3 linked regions of the Homo sapiens genome follow. The protein of the gene in region 3 purifies or fractionates together with the protein of the main gene of each other region. This does not show direct contact. Each region holds a gene or a part of one and is shown on either strand. Other genes may lie near its edges.

Region 1 (3,653 bases), on a different chromosome or scaffold from region 3:
ATTCCTAGGAGTTTTCCAGCTTCTTGCAGGGTGAGGATCATCCACACTGGCACTTGCTCTGGCTTTTACTCCTCAGACACCTGTGGCCCTGCAGGAGCATCCTGTAAGCCTTCCAACTCAGCTTCGCTTTCAAGAGATTCTTTCTTTCCTTCCCCGGAATCTTCAGGATTGGAATCCTTTTGAGAGATACCTACTTCAGCCTCTGGTTGCTCTTCATTAACACAGTTAGAATTGACATCAAGTTTGCCGTCTGATTAAAAAAAGAAGAAGTTATTTTGTTCCTACCATGTGTCAGACACTCTTCTCAATGCTTTACATGTATTATTTAATCTTCCTATCAACTACATGAGGTATATTAGTATCTCTACTGTCATCGCTAACGTTATTTTACAAATGAGAAAACTGAGAAGAGAGAGGTTTGGTAGCTTGCTGCAAGTTTCCTGGCTAGTGAAACAGCAGAACCAGCATTTGAACTCAGGCCGCTGGCTCCAAAGCCATCTCTAAATCAAGATTGTTGCTTGGGATTTGACAAAGCCTGTATTTGAATACAGCTTTTCTGTGAATTTATTTGATGTCCTTGGAGAGGTAATTGCCTGCATGAAGTTGTTTCCCTTGTCTATAATATGCAGGTAATAAAGGCTATCCTACATTGGTGAAGAATAAAGTTGTCTGTAACATTTAGAGCAGTGTTTGGTGCATGAATGATGCTTAACAACTGGGAGTGCCCATTCTACTGACAATCTTATTCTCCCTCAATAGTGTGTTAGTAATGAACATTTGTTACTTTCTGTCCTTAGCACATAGAATAAAAAAGTTTGGTCAAGAAAACAAGAGAAGGCATGGCAGTCAGAAAGCCTGACTATTCTCTTAAGGATAAATGGTTTAATTGTGTACAAACCATTTAATTCCACTGAGAGTATATCTCAACCCAGTAGTAAAGCGGATATGGTTCCTTGAGAGATGGAGGCAGAAATGCCTGGTATCAGAATAACCGAGGCATCTTTTTCAAATTACATGCACTCCCCCAGAACATATGATACATTCTCTGGAATGAGGCATGAGGGTGGGGGCAGTTCTCCTCTCCAATCTGATAATCACTGCTGAAGCAACTCACTATTTCTGATGAAAATGGGTCACAAAACCTCAAGAGGGATGGAGAAAAAAAAATACAAAATTCACTGCTATGACACTTGTAGAAATTTGATCTGTATATTAGATCTGCAATTTAATGAATGATTTATAAATATACTCTGTAATTTCACCTGTAGTTCTGAAATTTAATTAAGGAATTTAAAGGCTTCCACCCTTAAAATCTTCTGGTAGCCATTAGTGGAAATTTAATTAATTCCCTTATTCAAAGACTTTAAAATCCTTCATGAGCAGAATATAAGTTAATACCCATTAAGGGTCCCATTGTTCCAGGGCAGTAACCTAAGCTAGAATGTAAAATATGAAATAAGCTACATCCCTCAGAATTTGATGTCTCTGTTTTCCAGTGATGTCCAGGCTGACTATATCCTAAGAACTTAAAAACGGGACACATTAAAATTTAAATGTGATTCTTACATCGGTCACTCCTGAGCTCCTATGGCTTCCAGAGAAGACGCAGTTTCAGTGTGTTAAGATCACCTATCATCTCTCTCTCCACTAAAAAGCAGAGTGAACTCGGTTTTTATATACATACGGTTTTCCTCTTGTCTCTTTTCTTTGGCAGCCTCCAACTGTTGCTTTTCGTAAATGTCCTTCAGATTCTTACAGATTTTCTTATGAGTAAACCAGTGTGTTTTCTGGCAGGTTTGATCACAATATATTACCTGAAAGCAATTGTTGGTTTATTTTCATTTCCAGAGCTTGGGTTGTATGATTTCCTAACTATGACTAAACCAAGAACTAAGCTATAAAAATGTCATTTTCCATACTTTATTTTAAAACCATAATATGTGGTTGATATAGTTTGGATGTTGTCCCCTCTAAATCTCATACTGAATTGTGATCCCAAATGTTGGAGGTGGGGCCTAGTGGGAGGTGATAGGATCATGGGGGCGGTTTTCTCATGAACAGTTTAGCACCCTTCCCTTGGTGCTGTCCTCACAATACTGAGTGAGTTCTTACAAGATCTGGTTGTTCAAAAGTATGTGGCAACTCCCCCACCTCCTCTTGCTCCAGCTCCTGCCATGTGACATGCCTGCTCCCCCTTCACCTTCCACCATAATTGAAGGCTTCCTGAGACCTCACCAGAAGCTGAGCAGATGCCCATGCCATGCTTCCTGTATACCTTCAGAACCGTGAGCCCATTAAACCTCTTTTCTTTATAAATGACCCAGTCTCAAGTATTTCTTTATAGCAACGTAAGAACGGCCTAACACAGTATCTTTGTATTGATTTAGATTTATAGTTTGTAGCTTTACTTTAAAACAATAATGAATATATAACAAACAGTCTACCAAAGACTTTAGCAAATAGCTTATTATGAACCCGCTATGTGCCAGAATTGGTACAGTACAATGACAAGGAAGATAGAGTTGTCCCAAAGGTAGCTAGCATCAAGAAAAAGAAAGATATGGAAGAAGGGAGAGAGGCAGGCACCTAAATACATAATTTCTTAACACAGTACAGGATGTAAGAGTGATGGAGGCATAGAGGAAGCAGCAACTCACTCTAGCTGTGGTGAGTCGAGGTAGACAGAAAAATGGGAAAGAAGAATTCTAACTGGAGAAAATATCTAGTACAAAAATGCAGGAACAGGGAAGTGAATGATATGTTCAAGAACAGCAAGAAGTTTTTGTAAATGGCCTTATATTTTTGCAAGTAGGGGTGGAAAGGAGATGGGAATGAATGTTATTAAACACTTACTGTATGCCAAGCACTGTGGTAGGCCCTTATACATATATTGTATTATTGGCCCCAATTCTTCATTCATCCTTGCATTCATACACTTTCTCACATGATTTCAAAGTTCTCTGCACTGAAGGGGAGGAGACTTGACTTCAGATTGGGCCATGTAATTTGTTTCAACCAACAGCATGAAACAACATGGCAATTTCAAGGCTAGTCCTTGAGAGGTCTTCTGTGTTTCTACCTGCCCATGTGTACCTTTGCTATTGCCATGACAACATGCTCAGCCTAGCCTGCTAGTACAAGAAGGATGAGAGTCACATGGAGCACAACTGCCCCAGCTGAGAACAGCCAACCACAACTGTGAGAGAAAGACTAAATGATTATCATTTTAAGCACTGAGTTTGAGTGTGTTTTTATAAGCAGTAATAATTAACCAATATAAATAGTTTGATTTAATTCTGGAATTTCATTTAATTCAGGAAACAGGTTCAGAGAAGTAAGTCATTAAACAAGATGAAGCTGAAGAAGTAGGTCACAGCAGATTATAATGGGTTTCATACAACATGCTGGAGAATTTCAACCTTAAAGTCAACAGGCAGTTGATGCTACCTATGGGATTAAGTGAATGTACGGACACATGCATGTGTCCAGTATCTGGATATGAGAACAACACAATCAGATATGCCTTTTACAAAGATAATTCTGGCAGAAGGGGGCAGTACAGTCCATAGGGATTAAAGACTGGTAACAGTCAGAAACTATAGTTTTACAAGGATATGTTGATGAAGACACTGTCATTAAAGTCAACATCAGAA
Region 2 (3,653 bases), on a different chromosome or scaffold from region 3:
TCAACATGTGGCTGTCCCTGAGGCATCACTGAAGCCTCGTCTTGCAGGGACAGAACTCATCTTCCTCCTCAAACTGGCACCTGCTCTATCTAGTCACCCACCCTAAATCTCCCAACCCACCCACGGGACCCGGCCTCTGCAGCCACTGCCCTAGGGCAGGCATTTCCTCTATTTCAGCAGTGCCACCTGCAACCCTCCTAGGAAGCCCACTGCTTACAAGACCAAGCTTCTCAGGCCAGCGCTCTCAGGCACCCACCTGAAGTCAGCCTCAGCTCCTGCCTGCTCCCTGCTGAGGTCTAAGGACACCACACCATGCAAGCCTGGTACCGCCCACAGCCCTCCCACCGCCCTCCCACCGCTGTGCTTCTGTGTCTGTGCTGCCCCTGACATCCCATTCTGTACAGCAAACACTGACTCACCCTTCAAGGCCTAGGAGAAATAAACCTTTTCCACAGCCTGCCCAAATGACCCTTAATGGCAGAATCACACTCCCTCCCCCTTTCATTCCCAGAGACATTCGGCTGCACCCAGGGTGGCGTCCTCACCAGCAGCTCTACCCACCACCTTCTATCTTGCCCAGGCTCAACAAAAAAGGCAACAAATAAAGTACTTACTGCAAACCTCTAGCTACATCCAATATTTGAAGACAGCACCCAATCCACATGCTCCAGGGTGGGGAGCAGGTGACAAAACCTTGCATTCCTACCCAGGCACCAGTGGAACAAAGGAGAACCCCCTGTTCCGCTGAGGAGCCAAGGATCGCCTCTCAGTAACCCTCCAGCAGACACGGGCCTGCCTGGGCACCCATCTAGGAGATGAGGACCTTGGCCCCCAGGATCTGTCCATGGGCCAGGCTCACCTGCCTGGCTTGGCTTGAAGTTCAACGGTCCCAACTCTGAGGAGTGCCTGGGTTCCCTTCCAGAAAGAAGAGCTCGCCCAGCTCTGCCCATCCCATCTAGACCCCACCTCCCCTTCCCCACCCGGCTCTCAGGAGCGGGGACAGGTGCCTTTCCCAGAACTGTGTGGTCCCAATCCGGACCCACCAGAAACACGGAGCAGGAGCCTCAGGGAAGGGATGAGGCCAGTACGGAAAGGCAGAGACCGGGGGGCCTGGAGAGAGTCGCTCCCTTTCCCTGGATCCCCACGAGCAAACGAGAAACAGGACCTCTAAGAGCTCAGAGTCTCTTCCCCCTTACCCCAAAGAGGGGTATTTGAAGCCCAGAAAGGCTCGGAGCCTGGCCTAAGGTCAACCAAGTCAGAATGGGCCCCAGACTCCCTCCTGCAGCCCGCACCCTACGCCGCGGCACTCCCTCAACTCTGGCCACTGAGGACCTTCAGTAACTGTGCATGTCATGGCTCTCCACCCCACCCTCTCCAAGCCTGCAGTGGACTCCCAGGAACCACGAGGATGTACAAAGACCTCCCTTCCAGGATCCAACCGCCCCAGGAAGGGCACCCCCAATCCCCTCGCACGTGAGCAGCCCCACACACCTGCCTGACTCTAGTGACAGAGCAGAAAGACAGCCGGGGCGGTGGTCGGTCAGCTTGCAAACAGCAAGAGGCAGGGCAGCCAGGTGGAGGAACTGCCCCCACAGGGTCCCTGAGAAAGGCTGTGCTGGCTGCCAAGCCCCTGGAATAAGGGGAGAAGCAGGAAGGGCCCCCACCCAATATAGAACAGCAGTTTTGAGCTATGAGATCCCAAAAGTGGGGAGTCAAATACCTAGACAGAGACAGCCTGTGTTCTTTCGCATGTCTGGAATGGGAGGACAGAAAGGAGGGACGACAAGGCAAGGTGGCCGCGGCTCCCACTCTCCTTCCCCAGCCCAGGGAGACGACCCTCAGGGGGTACCTATTCCCTATCCCGTTTCAAAGGAATGCAGCTGGCTCCCAAGGGGCCTCCTCTCCCCAGGACAGCATGTTTTACCCTAATCCTTCCTCCTAGGAACCCCGAAGGTCTCCCCACCCCTGGATGAAGGCTGAGCGATCTCCCCCGCAGGCAGCTGGCTGGCTCACCAGGTCCCGGTGCTCACCTGGTGCAGTTGGCAGCTGCCCTCCCCTCGGCTCTGGAGTCTCAGGATGGCCGTGGCAGCAAGGCAGCCAGCTCTCCAGCTCAGCCCCAGCATTGCCCGGGTTCCTTGTTCCAGCCTCTGCCGCTACCCTTGCCCTAATGCAGCCAGTCGGCCCGGGGCTGGAGCTCCGGCTGGCTTCGGGTTTCAGTGGGGCCAGGCCTGCCATGGCAGCCCCAGGAAGGGCACACTCCCCCTGCCTGGCATCCCGCTCAAGGTCGGCCAGAAGGACGGCTGTGGGCCAGGAGAACCCGGTGGCCCCAGGACCCCAGGGGGAGCTGCTATCAGCACTCAGGCCCACCTCCCTATGCCCCCTAGAGAGGGGGTCACTGCCGGCAAAGCCGCTAGGGGGATCGGAGAACCCAGAATTTGGGGTACCTGGACCCCTCAAGATTGAGGGCCTAGGAGACTGGCTGGCAGGGGCAGGGCCCAGCAAGGGGGTCCTCTCCTCCGCTCCCATCCCAGTGGGGGTGAACAGGACCGCTTCTGCCAGCTGCCGCCAACAGCTGGCACAGACCCGGGTCCAGGCCATAAGGTGGCTGCCTCTGCCCACCAGTCCCAGACACTGAGCACCCCACTGTCCCTGGGCCAAGGGCCTGGCTGGGACCTCTGGCTCCTGCTGCCCCCTGCAGGTGACCTGGCTGCCAGCCCCTTCCTGGGAGTCACTGGTTCTGGTGGAAGGGAGGGGGATGGGCCCCCAGCTTCCCAGAGGACAACTGCACCCGTGCCCCTGGCCTCCAGGCTCCATCAAGAAGCTGGCAGGCTCCATCTTCCCTTCCCAGCAGCCCCGGCTCTGCCAGGAGGGAACCAAGTCTCTCCCAGGGGAGAACAGAGCTGGCAGCAAGAGGCCAGTGGCCGCACGGCGGGGGAGGAGGTGCCCAGCTGGCCAGGGCGCCTTCCCAGGGCCTCTGACATGCTGCCAGTGCCCAGTAAGGGCTGCCCCAGCATCCACCCTACCCAGGGTGGGCGGGAGCCAGGCTCTCACTCCATCCCCTCCCCTCCAGGACCAGGGATCAGGCAGACCCTGGGCTGCTTCACAGCCCCCATGGAAGGTTCTGGGTCTCACACAATGACCAGAGGAGAAGGACCAGGCCTAGACAGAGCCCCTCTGCTCCTACCCTCTCCTGAAATACACCCTAACCCTCCGGAGAGAGGGGTGGGGCAGGGCAGCCTGGCAGTGACCCCAGAGAAGTGTTGACAACCACCTGCACTCTGATTACCACAGAGCCAGGACTCACGCTAGGCCCAGCCCACGGCAGCTCCCTAAACCGCCGTGCCAGCCCATCTCACCTGAGGAAACTGAGGCTCCAGAAGGCTAGGAAGCAGCTGCCCAAGGTCACAGAGGCAAGAGGAGCCAACCCAGAGCAAGAAAAAACCAGGTGTTACTATCACATTTGGGATTAAGTTTAAAAAAAAAAGGAAAGAAAAAACAGGAGTGTCAGACGCCCAAGCCCATGGCTTTTGAGTCACTCCCACTGAGCGCGGGCTACCCACCCGCTCCCACCGACCTGCTCCCGCCGACCCGCTCCCATGGACCCGCTCCCACTGACCCACTCCCACTCAGCGCAGCCCACCCACCCCCTCCCG
Region 3 (2,869 bases):
CAGTGATTTTTCATGTGTGGCAAGTTCCATTTCATTTCCTATTTCCTAACTCACTTTCAAATCTCTCCTTTCATTACTTTCTTATCATTTCCAAAGTCTTAACCACATTTTTCATCATTATTTCTTACACCAAGCCAAGTGATTTTTACCACACCTTAATGATGGTCAAAAGAGAGTGTTTTGTGTTGTGTTTTACATTTTTCCTAATGCTGGCAAGCAGAATGATAGAAAGATAATGTTTCAAGTCTGAAAGAAAACCACCTCATTCAGACTTTCCTTCACCATGAATGAGATCTTCTCATGATTGCCTTTGAGAAATCCGTGATTGAAAAGTTTTGTTAAACACCAGTGACAAGCAGCTAATGGCATAATATCTGCTTTGATTTTCTCAGACACACTCTAAGTTTTCATCCTCACTTCTCTGTGGTCCTTCACCTTTGACTTCCTTTATCATGTAACTGCCAATTTTGATCGTTTAATTGAAAGAGGAAGAGTGACAAGAAAAATAAACAATTTAGCTCAGTGGATTGCCCCCTTTACAAATAAGGAAACAAAATTTGTCCTTCTAGATTTCAGACTAAGCTGATAACATTTTAAAAATCCTGTACAGAAAGGTCTTTTTAAATGCTTTTATTTGCCAAAAGTTTTGGGTGATTTTGAAATACATTAGACATCCCATTCATTGAGGAAAAAGACAGTTTATTCCAAAACATTCTTTAATAGTCCTAAACTGATTTTGTCTATCAGAGCAAAAGGAACAAAGGTAAAAATCCACCTGAAAAAAGATCTTTGTATCATGGAAATTATGAAGCTGGATTTCTTAGACATTAAAGAAATTCACAGACCCACATAGTTTAAAAATTTAATTTTTAAGATTAAATTTTCACAACACATTATGACTGTAAATGAGTTACCTGAATACCAATTATTACCTCTAGTTATTTTTAGCAAGGGAGCTGGACTTCACTTTACTTAATGCTAGCTTATAAATTTAACTTTGTAAAATTATAGTGGAAATGTGTCCTGGCTAGCTGCCTCTGCCCAAAGCAAATGTCATCTCCCCTAAGTGCCACAGTTCTATCTCCCCGTCCTCTGAGCTCCACTGAAACTTACCTTGTATCCTTCTTGTCCCCCACGCCTTCTAAATAAGAGTCTCTTGCATCTATCAATATGTGTTTGTGGAAGAAAGGAAGGTGCAGAAAAATAAATACGCATCATAGTTTAATTAGGAAAGTAAGGGCTTTGAATCAAACCCAGCTTTGTATCTCACTTCATCTATTTATTCATCATGTGACAATAGACAGTTGAGTTAACCCTTCTGACCTTAGTTTCCCCATCTTTATCATGGAGATAATGAGACCTTCTTCATTGGATATTGTGAAGATTAAACTGGATATGATTATATATCACCTTGCACATAGAGGCTCTCAATTAAAAAAACACTTCTCTTTCTTCTATTCTAGCATATCATTCATGGTCCAATCCTGCATTACAGTTGGTTGAATGCAGGTCTGTTTCTAGGCAGCACATTTTTGAAGGCAAAGTTGTTCATCTCTGTATTTCCTGTAGAACCTAGGGTGATGAGCTGCATAGTCTGGAGGCACAGGAACTGCATATTATACTAAATTGAGAGCTGAGCCAGGATGGCCAAGGCTGTGAAGCAATTATCCATGGATTTGGTCATTTGGGCTCTTTTGGTAGTATAGTTCCTCTCATGAATTTCCACTCTGGTCTTAAAACAGCCCATCATGTTTTTAAATTAGCTTGCACAAAATACAACTAATTTCCTAGATTCTTTGGCAACTGATCAGAATACTATTCTATGTCTCGCTATAGAAACTCCTGCAGGCATATTGACTATACCCTGAGAAAGACAAAACTAAATGCACTACATGATGCTGGGAAAACAAGTTGTGATGAAAACAGTGCTGAGTCAAATAAATATAGATTATTAACTCCAGCTTGCCCTTGACTGGTCATGAGACCTTGGACAAGCTACCTATGCTCATTAAGCCTCAATTTAACTTCTTGACATCTCAACTATAAAAAACAAGGGTATTTTTTGCTTTGTTTGGTAATTTTGAGGAAAAACAACAACAAATGAGAGATAATTCTACTTTAGTTGTTACACAGGGTTGTTGGGTAGAGAAGGAAGGTGATGCCTTGGAACAGACTTTAACAACTGTGAGGCAGGATAAAAAACAAGTCCTGAAAGCCATCACTTTTTGACCATAGTGAGCTCTTCTTTTGTAACGGTTCAGGCTTCTAACCTTATTTCCTCCTTTGGCAACTGACCAGCTCACGCACACATACTAGTGATGAAATCCACATAACTCCATATCTTTTCCTCTACATGGCCAAGAGTTTCAGTGCAACAGGAAAGTGCTGTCACGGATCCATCGTGCAACACATACAGTGCTGTAAAGCAAAGGCCTCGTCTGCCTGCAGGCAGCAGGAACTGCACGCATTACCCTTCTGTCTGATGTACAGCCTAACTGCTTCGTGCTTCTTCTCATGTGTTGAGCCACAGCTTTCTTGTAGAGTATTTCAAAAATACAGCCCCAAAACAAAGCATAATCGAAAGTCATCCCAGGTGAAAGTGGTTGGCTTGGGGGAGGTCACACAGTCCTTTCAGTTCAGGTAGAATCCTTGTTTCTAGGTCATTTGACCAACATCATCCCAGGCTCCTTAGGGAAATCAGGAGGGGGCAGAAGCAGGCTGACCAGCTACAGGCTACACACAGAAGAACGAACCTTCCCAAATTTCTGGAAAAAATCTTCTTGTGCCCGGGCCAAGGCCTCTTCGTCAATGTAGACAGCCGGCCTCTTGGCCATGAGGAAATACTGCACCTTCCTCAGATTCCAGCCCA

What was found.
Region 1: the proteins of EPM2A (region 3) and ANKMY2 purify together in Homo sapiens (affinity purification with mass spectrometry, with the first as the bait; one large-scale study listed by BioGRID). This does not show direct contact.
Region 2: the proteins of EPM2A (region 3) and CLUH purify together in Homo sapiens (affinity purification with mass spectrometry, with the first as the bait; one large-scale study listed by BioGRID). This does not show direct contact.

Annotation. Positions count from the first base shown.
Region 1 is NC_000007.14:16,600,696-16,604,348, forward strand, and holds part of ANKMY2 (ankyrin repeat and MYND domain-containing protein 2), read right to left. Parts: intron 1,815-3,653; coding exon 1,685-1,814; intron 251-1,684; coding exon 66-250; 3' UTR 1-65. UniProt on the Homo sapiens protein: May be involved in the trafficking of signaling proteins to the cilia.
Region 2 is NC_000017.11:2,705,143-2,708,795, forward strand, and holds part of CLUH (clustered mitochondria protein homolog), read right to left. Parts: intron 3,375-3,653; exon of another isoform or gene 3,357-3,374; intron 2,634-3,356; exon of another isoform or gene 2,599-2,633; coding exon of another isoform or gene 2,031-2,598; intron 1,509-2,030; exon of another isoform or gene 1,492-1,508; intron 1-1,491. UniProt on the Homo sapiens protein: mRNA-binding protein involved in proper cytoplasmic distribution of mitochondria.
Region 3 is NC_000006.12:145,624,690-145,627,558, forward strand, and holds the end of EPM2A (laforin), read right to left. Parts: coding exon 2,727-2,869; 3' UTR 1,036-2,726; coding exon of another isoform or gene 1,006-1,035; 3' UTR 616-1,005; downstream 1-615. UniProt on the Homo sapiens protein: Plays an important role in preventing glycogen hyperphosphorylation and the formation of insoluble aggregates, via its activity as glycogen phosphatase, and by promoting the ubiquitination of proteins involved in glycogen metabolism via its interaction with the E3 ubiquitin ligase NHLRC1/malin.